2 separate regions of the Homo sapiens genome follow, and region 1 is linked to region 2. The links come from fine-mapping of genetic effects on gene expression. Tissue or cell type: whole blood. Region 2 holds a variant in brackets; the other region holds the start of a gene. All regions are shown on one strand. Distances are between the middles of the regions.

The links. PIP is the estimated chance that this variant, and not a neighbour inherited with it, causes the effect.
Region 1: it holds the start of DYSF, and the variant in region 2 is fine-mapped to the expression of DYSF in whole blood (TOPMed, PIP above 0.99).

Annotation. Positions count from the first base shown.
Region 1 is chr2:71,464,115-71,468,353 of GRCh38, forward strand. It overlaps DYSF (dysferlin), which reads left to right and starts at 2,585. Exons shown (of 56, transcript NM_001130987.2): 1 at 2,585-2,819. The coding sequence starts at 2,729.
Region 2 is chr2:71,596,256-71,600,494 of GRCh38, forward strand. It overlaps DYSF (dysferlin), which reads left to right. Exons shown (of 56, transcript NM_001130987.2): 33 at 2,309-2,490. Among named protein-coding and RNA genes, the nearest start is that of DYSF, 130 kb to the left of the region's middle. RefSeq lists enhancers at 1,766-2,267, 2,268-2,767. The variant C/T (reference allele first, on the strand shown) is at 2,322.

The DNA.
Region 1 (4,239 bases), 130 kb before region 2:
ATGTGGTTGCCACCCTCTGTGGTCTCTACCCCTTGACTGGAAGCTCCCTGAGGGCAGGGATGTGACTTATTCCCAGCAAGTCAGAGGTGATGGGTGAATGTTTATTCTTTCAGTCCATCATTTAGAAAGAATTTATGGAGACCATGCTTTGCACCAGGTGCTGTTTCAGGCACTGAGGAAACAGCAGTGGACAAAACAGACAAAAACCCCTGGCTCCTTGGAGCAGACATTCTGATGGGGAAGACAGAAAACAATTAAGACACATGTGCTATACAGTGATTGGTGCTAGAGAAGAAGCCTGAAAGGGAGATGAAAGAGGGAAAGTTGTGGTGTTCAGTTGTGTGGCCGGGTTGGTCTCACTGGAGTTGATATCTGAAGGAAAGGAAGACATGCCAGCCAGAGGGAACAGCTGACAGAGACCCTGGGGAGGCGCTGGTCTGGCCTGTCTGGGGAACAGCTGGAAGGCTAGCATGGGTCCTGGGGAGGTCAGAGAGGTCAGCCAGGGCTTTCAAGGTCACGTAAGGGGAGAGTGGCTGGAGAGGAGGTCAGCGAGGTCAGCCAGGGCTTTCAAGGTCACGTAAGGCCTTTGAGTTTTGCACTGAGTGAGATGGGAGCCAACGGAAGACTTTGAGTAGAACCAGGTCATGAGAATTGAATTGAGGATAGACCATGGGGACAAGGGCAGAGCAGGAGACGCATTGGGAGTCCATGGAGTCGATTAAATGACTCAGGCAAGGGATGACAGGCTTCCACTGGGGGCAGTTACAATGGAGATGGTGAGATATGGTGGGATTTTGGACATATTTTGAAGGAGAGTGGGAGGGGGATTTGCAGTTTTGGTGACCTGGTGGGGTTGAAGGTGTCACTGGGTGGGTTCAAGAGAGAATGGAGGAGGGAGATTGGAGACAGAAAGTATGGAGAGCTCCTTCAAAGGGCATTGTTGTGAAAAGGGAGAAATGACCAGTAGCTGAAGGGGATGTGGGGTCAACGGTGTGCTTTCTTGAGAGCAATAACATCATGCTTGTGTGCCGATGGGATGATCCGGTAAACAGGGGAACTTGGTAAGGCAAGAGAGTGAGAGAATCACTGCAGGCTCACCACTGAATGGGCGAGAGGGGATGGGGTCTATGCCCAAGTGTCCAGTTGTTACCAGTGGGGAGTACGGGTGATTCATTTGTAGGAACAGGAGAGAACTCACAGGATTTGGGCACAGATGCCGAGGGCGGGCGTTAGAAGGAGACTGGGGACCTGAAGAAGTTCTCTGCTCCGTAAAGAGGAAGCAAACTGAGAGTGAGGTTGGGCGATGGGGTGTCCTAGGGGCATCCGGGAGACAGGGAGACAAGACATATAGTATGATTGCCCCCAGCAGTGAGGGCTCGCTTGAGTTAAGGGTCATGACTACAAAAGGCACCACTCAGGCCGGCTGTGTTACTCTCCAACACAGCACTGGTTGGGGGCAGGTGTGGAGGAGGCGGAGTTGGATTCGCCAGGGTTATGGCTTAGCCCTGTGAGAATGCTGTATCCCTCAAAATAAGAGAGGGGAAAGGGAGTTGAGATTTTGCGCAGCAGTGCGTTTAGGCTGAGTGAGCAGGTTGGTTAGTGAGGACTTGGGCGGTGGGAAGACGGACAGTGCCCTGACAGGGGCTAGGTGCTGGAGTGCTGGGGGATAGAAGTGCGAAGCCAGGGCCCCTGTGTCAAGAAGTTCATACGCTGGAAAGGAACCAGACATAATAAGCGAAACGACTGTCACCGTTCATGGCTTACACCTTGAACAGCTTTCCACTGTGGAGACTAGGGAGTGTAGAGATTGTTGGGGATGGGGGACTTGCAGGGGACAGAATGGGCCGCAGCTGGACCCTAGTTCTCCAGGGAACGCAGTATGATTTGAATACAGATCTCTGCCTCCAGAGATGAGTGACTCGACACCGCTGCGGAGAAGGCTCCGAGGAGGGTTGGTGGGGACTCGAACCTCGGAGTCTCTCCCGACCCGGGGGTCCCAGCAAACCAGAACGGCCACCTAGACAGCCTGCGGACGGGAGAGGACCGGCTCCCTGGCGCAGATCATGGGGCAGGTGGAGAGAGGCGAGAGGCAATGAGGCGGGGGGCTCGGGGTGCACGGCACGCTCCGCACACTCCCCCTTCAGCGCTCACTCAGACTTGGTTTCCCCGAAGACACACTCTCGTCCCCGCCGCTGATTGCCCACTCCTTCCGCCTGCACTCCTGCCTCCTTCTCACCCTTTCGTCGAGCGCACAGGGCGGCTGCCAAGTCGGCACCGGTGCGCACCGGGCCCGGGATCCCTGGCTGGTGTGGAGCCTTGGTCACCGGAGGCCCCCGCGGAGCAGGCCCCACGGCGCCTTGTGCGCTCTCGGAGGCCGAGCTGCGCGCCCGCGTCAGCGGCGCCTCGTTCCTGGCCGGGAGCTGGGACCCGCGGAGCTAGGGACCAGCACCCCCACAGGCGCCCGTCTGACCCCTGTCCCTCCCCGCCCGCCGCGGGCAGGGCGGATCTGGGTAGGGGCCGGAGGGGGAGGGTCCGCCCAGCGGGTGTCCGGTGTCCTCCCTGCAGCCTCTCCCAGGCATTGGTCACTTCTCCGCGGAGGAGCAGCGAAGGCGACAGCTCTCTTGGCGCGGCTGCCTGGGAGCCGGGCGCTTGCTGGGTGGGTGCTCGGGCCCGGTGCTCCCGCTCCCGCCCTGACTGCGCGCCTGTGTGCCGCCGGGGCTGCCCAGCCATGCTGTGCTGCCTGCTGGTGAGGGCCAGCAACCTCCCCAGTGCGAAGAAGGACCGGCGCAGCGACCCTGTCGCAAGCCTGACTTTCCGAGGTGAGAGCCCCGTGGCTGCCGCGCCCATGCTCGGGTGCTACCCGACTCTCGGCGCTCACTGGCGGGTCTGAAGCCCCTGCTCCGGAGCTAACCCTAGTCCAGGCCACAGTTTCTCCCTTTGTCAGCAGGGACGGAAATCCCAGCCCCGACTTCTGCAGGGGGGCGATGAGGAATAAGCAGAGCACAATAAATGCCACAGGGCTTTGAAAAATTGGAAAAGCGAAAGTGCCGTAGGTCAGCGGTTATCACTTTTCTAAGACTGACACCCAGAGGAAATAAAGTCCGAGCTTTTACTGGGTAGTGGGGATAAGGGTAAGTTGGAAGATGGGTGCAGAAGGTAGAGAGGAATCAGGGCCTCTGAAAAACGGGGCGTGTAGATGATGTGCTTTGAAAGTTGTGTCTTTTTTCATTCATTCATTCATTCATTCACCCATCTTTATCCAACATTGGCTGTATTGAATCTGCCCCGTCTTAATCAGTAGGAAAAGGAACAGAATAGGATGGAAATGGCCTTGACACAAGGAGTTTTGAGGAATGTCAAGGATATTTTCTCTAAATTCAAGAAGCTAAGTCCCTACATGTAGTGCTTAGAATACATACAGGTATTTCTGTGTGGGGCAGCAGAGAAATCACACACACACTCCTCTTCTCACCAGGCGTCCTGAACCCCCTCCCCCAACCCCTCCAAGGCAGATTCCCACTGGAGCGGGTGTCTCAGGAGGGGAAAGGGAAGAGGAAGGATCTGTCAAAATTAAGAGAAGGAACAATAGCTGTGAGTCAGGACCCCAGTTCTGCAGAGAAAGATAAATCAGGAGAGGAAAGAGGGTTTCCACTTAGCCAGGAGCCATACCCTGTAGCTTTGTGGAATCGATAATAATAATAATAAAAATCTACGTATCAGAAAAGATAGTCAAATGAAGAAGGAAGAGTAGCTGGTGTTTTCATAAGCCTCCTTCAGTGCAGGCACCAAGGGAACTCTTTTCAGTCTGACCCATGATCTGAATCATATCTCCAAGCACCCCCAAGATAATGATAGATGAAAGACATGATTTGGCAAAGGGAGATTTATGTGTAGCTTTTATTCTTTGCTGTGGGACAAGTTATATGTATTCCTCTTTTGAAAGATGTGATTTGAAACGTTTAAGAAAATTTCACTATTTTCATTGATTGGTGACATGCCTGGGAGTTCACTATGCAAGAGCAACTTCAAGACAAAGTCTTTCCTTCTCCAGTGTCCACCTGATGCTGCCTAAGGCTTTGCTATGCAGAAATTGCGGTGTCACCATTGGCTGGAAAAGAAATTCCCTAAGGACACTGGGCAGGGCACACATTAGCATAGGGCTCTGGATGCTCTAACACTCGTTTGGGTCTGCTCACAGCTCTTTCCCTTGTCCTGTAACAGTCCTGTGGTGGCTACCAA
Region 2 (4,239 bases):
TCAGCCTGCTCGGGGGCCAGCGTGGGGGGTGCTGCCAACACCAATACAGCGTGCACAGCCGCTACAATGTGCAATTGTGATCTTTGTGTAAACGCGGTCGGTCTGGGGCCCGCATGCTTATAAAAATAAAGCGTAGGGAAGCACGGGGCGGGGCGGGAACAAAAGGGGCTTTTTCGCTGGCTCTCTAATATGGTTTTATTTATCGGAATGCGCCCTCCTTTCCTTACTGGAACCTGGAGAGGTTCTCTGCCGAGCTTGGAGCTGATGGTATCACAGCCAGACGGTTTCATTAAATGCACAGATGCCTCTGGGCCCTGCCAGGGGCAGGACGGAAAGGGCTCAGGGCCGGCCCTGCCAGGTCCAGTGCATGGAAAGGAGAGCCCCATGCCAGAGAGGCTCCCACCAGGTAGGGGTGGGCAGTTCTCTCTGGCTCCTTCCCCTGCCAAGGGCCTCCCATTGCCCTCTTCTGTTCCACAGAATCAGGCTCAAAACCATTTTCCTGCAGGAAGTCCTCCATGATTTGTGCCTGATGGCTGTCAGGCTGATCCCAGGCTGGTGGCTGCCTTCTATTAACCAGACCCAGCATTGCTCAGCCAGTGGGTGGCCATGGCTGAGTCCGCCCCTTAACTTAGATACCTCCTGCTCTTAAAATCAGCTCTTTGGGCAACAGGTACAACCTTGGATCCTGCTCTCTCCATCCCTTGATGGGTTTCCTGCCATTGCCCACCCCAACCTTCCCACCTCTTTCCTGGTCACTCCTTGCCAGCCCCTTTCTCTGCCACCTGTGCAGTGGCCATGGTGTCCCATTTGGTCTTCTTGTGGCCAGGGAGCCTGTCTTGCTCTTCTCCCCTTTGTGCGGAAGCCCTGTCTCCCCATCCCAGCCCCTGGGTTGTGTTTGAACCTGCATCCTTCTGAGGCCAGCGACACAGAGGCCATTACCTCTGAGGCCACTGAGGCCCTCTTGAGGTCACAAGGGGAGTGAATGGCAGTGCTAGGGCTGGACTGTGGGGCTCAGAGGGCACAGGCCATTGCAGGATGGAGTAGGGTGCCAAGGGTATTGAGTGCATGGTTAGGCACTGGGTTCAGCCCTCAAGGTGACATCCCATTAGGAGAAGCTGAAGGGAGTCCCCTTCTCCAAGCCCTGTGTTCCTCTCCCAAGTTATATGCACTCAGACCCTCTCCTGCATTGGTTTCCAAAATGTGGTCCCAGAAGGCAGCATGAGCATCACTTTTAGGAACTTGTTAGAAATGCACATTCTCCAGCCCACCCCGGCCCTGCTGAATCCGAGTCTCTGGGGGCAGCACCCAGCAGCCTGAATGAACCTTCCAGATGATCCTGCAGCATGCTCACATTTTCAGAACCACTGCCCTAGAGTCTGCTCTAGTGACACCAACTTGCCTTTGGGACAAGGTAGAGGGAATGAGTTGTGGCTGGGTCCCAGGGTGGCGTGGCCAAGGCTGGCAGGCTGGAAAGGAGTTTGGGGGTAGCAGGGAGCTGCAGGGGCCTTTGGGTTTCTCGCACACCCCTACTGCTAAATAGCTGCTGAGTCTGTGCACTTCCCTTTAGCACCCCACACCCATCTAAGCCACCATTATTCCTCCCTGGACCACTGCAGTGACCTCAGAACTGGTCTCCCTAGACCTCATGCTCCCTCCAGTCTGTTCTCCATGTGGCAGCCAGAGTGAGCTTGCTGAAACGCAGACCTAGCCACGTCAGTCTGGTGGCATCCCAGAGCTCACAGACACCAGCAGCTCTGCTCTGCTTCCCCTTCCTCAAGGAAGCCAGATCCCTCCCTAACACATTTCACTGCATTTTATGTCTATTCTTCAAGGCTCTGACCCAAATTGTAATTTTACGTTAGCTTGTGTGGATATTTTATATTTAGTTCAAATTGTATTCTCAGCCCCTAGCACCTAGCACCTAGCCTGGCATAAAGAAGGCACTCAATACATGCTTGCTGGATGAATGAATGAATAGATGAATATACCATACAGGCACTCACTTCCCCCAGCTGGACCCTGCTTCCAGCAGCCACAGCTCAGGAAGCGGCAGAAAAGGGGATGCTCTCTGGATCTTGTGCCCATTTGCCAGGACCCAGGCTCCATGTCCCCACCGTGGCCTCCAGCTGGCCTCATGGTGGGGCTAGGAGAGCCCCATAGGGAAGATGCATCCCAGCATGAATGTTGTTGCTCCAGAGTGGCAGCCACAACCCTGCTCCAGCTTTGTGGCCCCACATGGCTCTGGAGAAGACATCTCTCAGGGTCCCTGCTGTGTCCTGTCTCCCCTCCCCCTCTCCGGCCCATGCAGATCCCTATGCCAT[C/T]GTCTCCTTCCTGCACCAGAGCCAGAAGACGGTGGTGGTGAAGAACACCCTTAACCCCACCTGGGACCAGACGCTCATCTTCTACGAGATCGAGATCTTTGGCGAGCCGGCCACAGTTGCTGAGCAACCGCCCAGCATTGTGGTGGAGCTGTACGACCATGACACTTATGTGAGTCTGCCCAGCTCCTGCCTCGTCCCCTCACAGGGAGGGACCATGTGCAAAGGTGGGGTCTCCAGGGACTCGTGGCTGCCCAGCCAGATGGGTGCTCTCCTAACTCCACGGGCCCTAGAACAATTAAAATAATTTTAGAGTCATTAAAAATGGATTGCTAGCACAGATGCCGTTCCCACAGCAGACATTGCTCATCAGTGGAAGGGAACATATCCGGAAAAGGCGCTTGGTTGTGGGTCAGGGGCTTGGGTTTTCTCTGCCTCTGCCTCGCCTGTGTGATCCCAGGCCAGTCCCTTCTTCTCATCGAGGAGCTGCGTGGAATCCTTAAATGTACATCAAACACTTACGTTACTGGCTGAGTGGCCCTTCACTTGGGGTTCCTTGTTTAGGTGGGAGCCCAGACACCCACACAGTGGAGAATCCTCCATGTGAGAGCACGGGTCCCCGAGTGCCTCTCAACTCTGTGCCACAGGCAGGGCCTCTTACCACAACTGTCCCACAGGACCTCCTGTGGTGACAGGCGAGCTCTAGGGCTGTGCTGTCCAAAAAGGGAGCCTCTAGCTGCACGAGGCTGCCCAGCACTGGAAATGGGACTGGTGCAGCTGAGAAATGAAATTGTAAATTTTATTTCATTTTAACGAAGTAAAATTAAAATTTAAATAGCTGCAGGTGGCTGGTGCTCCTGTATTGGACAGAGCAGCTCTAGGAGGCTCCCAGGAGGGAGAGAGTGCTATGGGCTGGAATGTCAGGAAAGCCTTTGGGAAAGACCCAGGCCCTGGAGGAAATGTGGGGTTGGGGTGTCAGTGCGAGGCAGAGGCCTGGAAGGAGGAGAAGGGAGTATGAGGCCAGGGGAGCAGGAGAGTGCTGACGTCAGGGCAGCATTTTCCGAAGAGGAGGCTGGATGCTGCCGGAAGAGATCCACTGGGCGCAAGGTAAAGAGGCCCGGCCTGCGCTGGAGGTGGCGGTGGGATGAAAGGGGAGGGGCTGGGTTTGGAAGACATTGTCAGTAAGAGTTGCCCTGACCAGACATCAGGTTCCCTGGGTGGGTGTGGTGAACAGGGGTGGGGGAAGGTGCTGCTGTCTATATGCCTCACCAGATGGCAGGGGCAGCTGGCCATGGGTAAGCTGGCCTGGGCTGGGGATGCAACGTTGGGGTGCTTGGAAGGAAAAGCTGGTACCATGGGAAGGAATGAGCAACTGGAGGAAGAGTCCATGTGGGACTGTTTGGAGAAGGGCACAGGCCCTGGCACCTTCGGAGCAGGAGGGAGGCAGGCGGCAGGGCTGGCACTTCTCGGGGGGACTCGGCAGGACTGAGTGCAAGTGCAGAACAGGGCGGGAGGGCAGCGGTATGAGCTGCAGGCTGCCAGAGCCCTGAGGGGGCTTGCCCCTGCATCCAGTGTGACAGATCTGTCTTCTGGGCGGCAGGGAGTTAAGGAAAGTGCCTGAAGAAAAGGCACCTGCCTTGATGAAAACATCATTTTGTCCAGGCTCATTTAATTTGATGAACGTGATCACAGTTTCCCCATTTGCAAAGTGGGTGGGAATTTAAGGGTGAAATGAGCAGGAGATACAGAAGTCCCTGGAACTGCAAAAACCTGTACTGCTGAGCGCATTAGAGAAATGCCAGGAGGCCGTCTCTCTGGTCTCCAATAGTCTTAGCGCTGATTAAATTGTAGCAGGGCAAACACTAGTTGGACAGTGTTGAACTGTCCAGAGGGACTTCCCGACCATGATGGGAATTCAAAC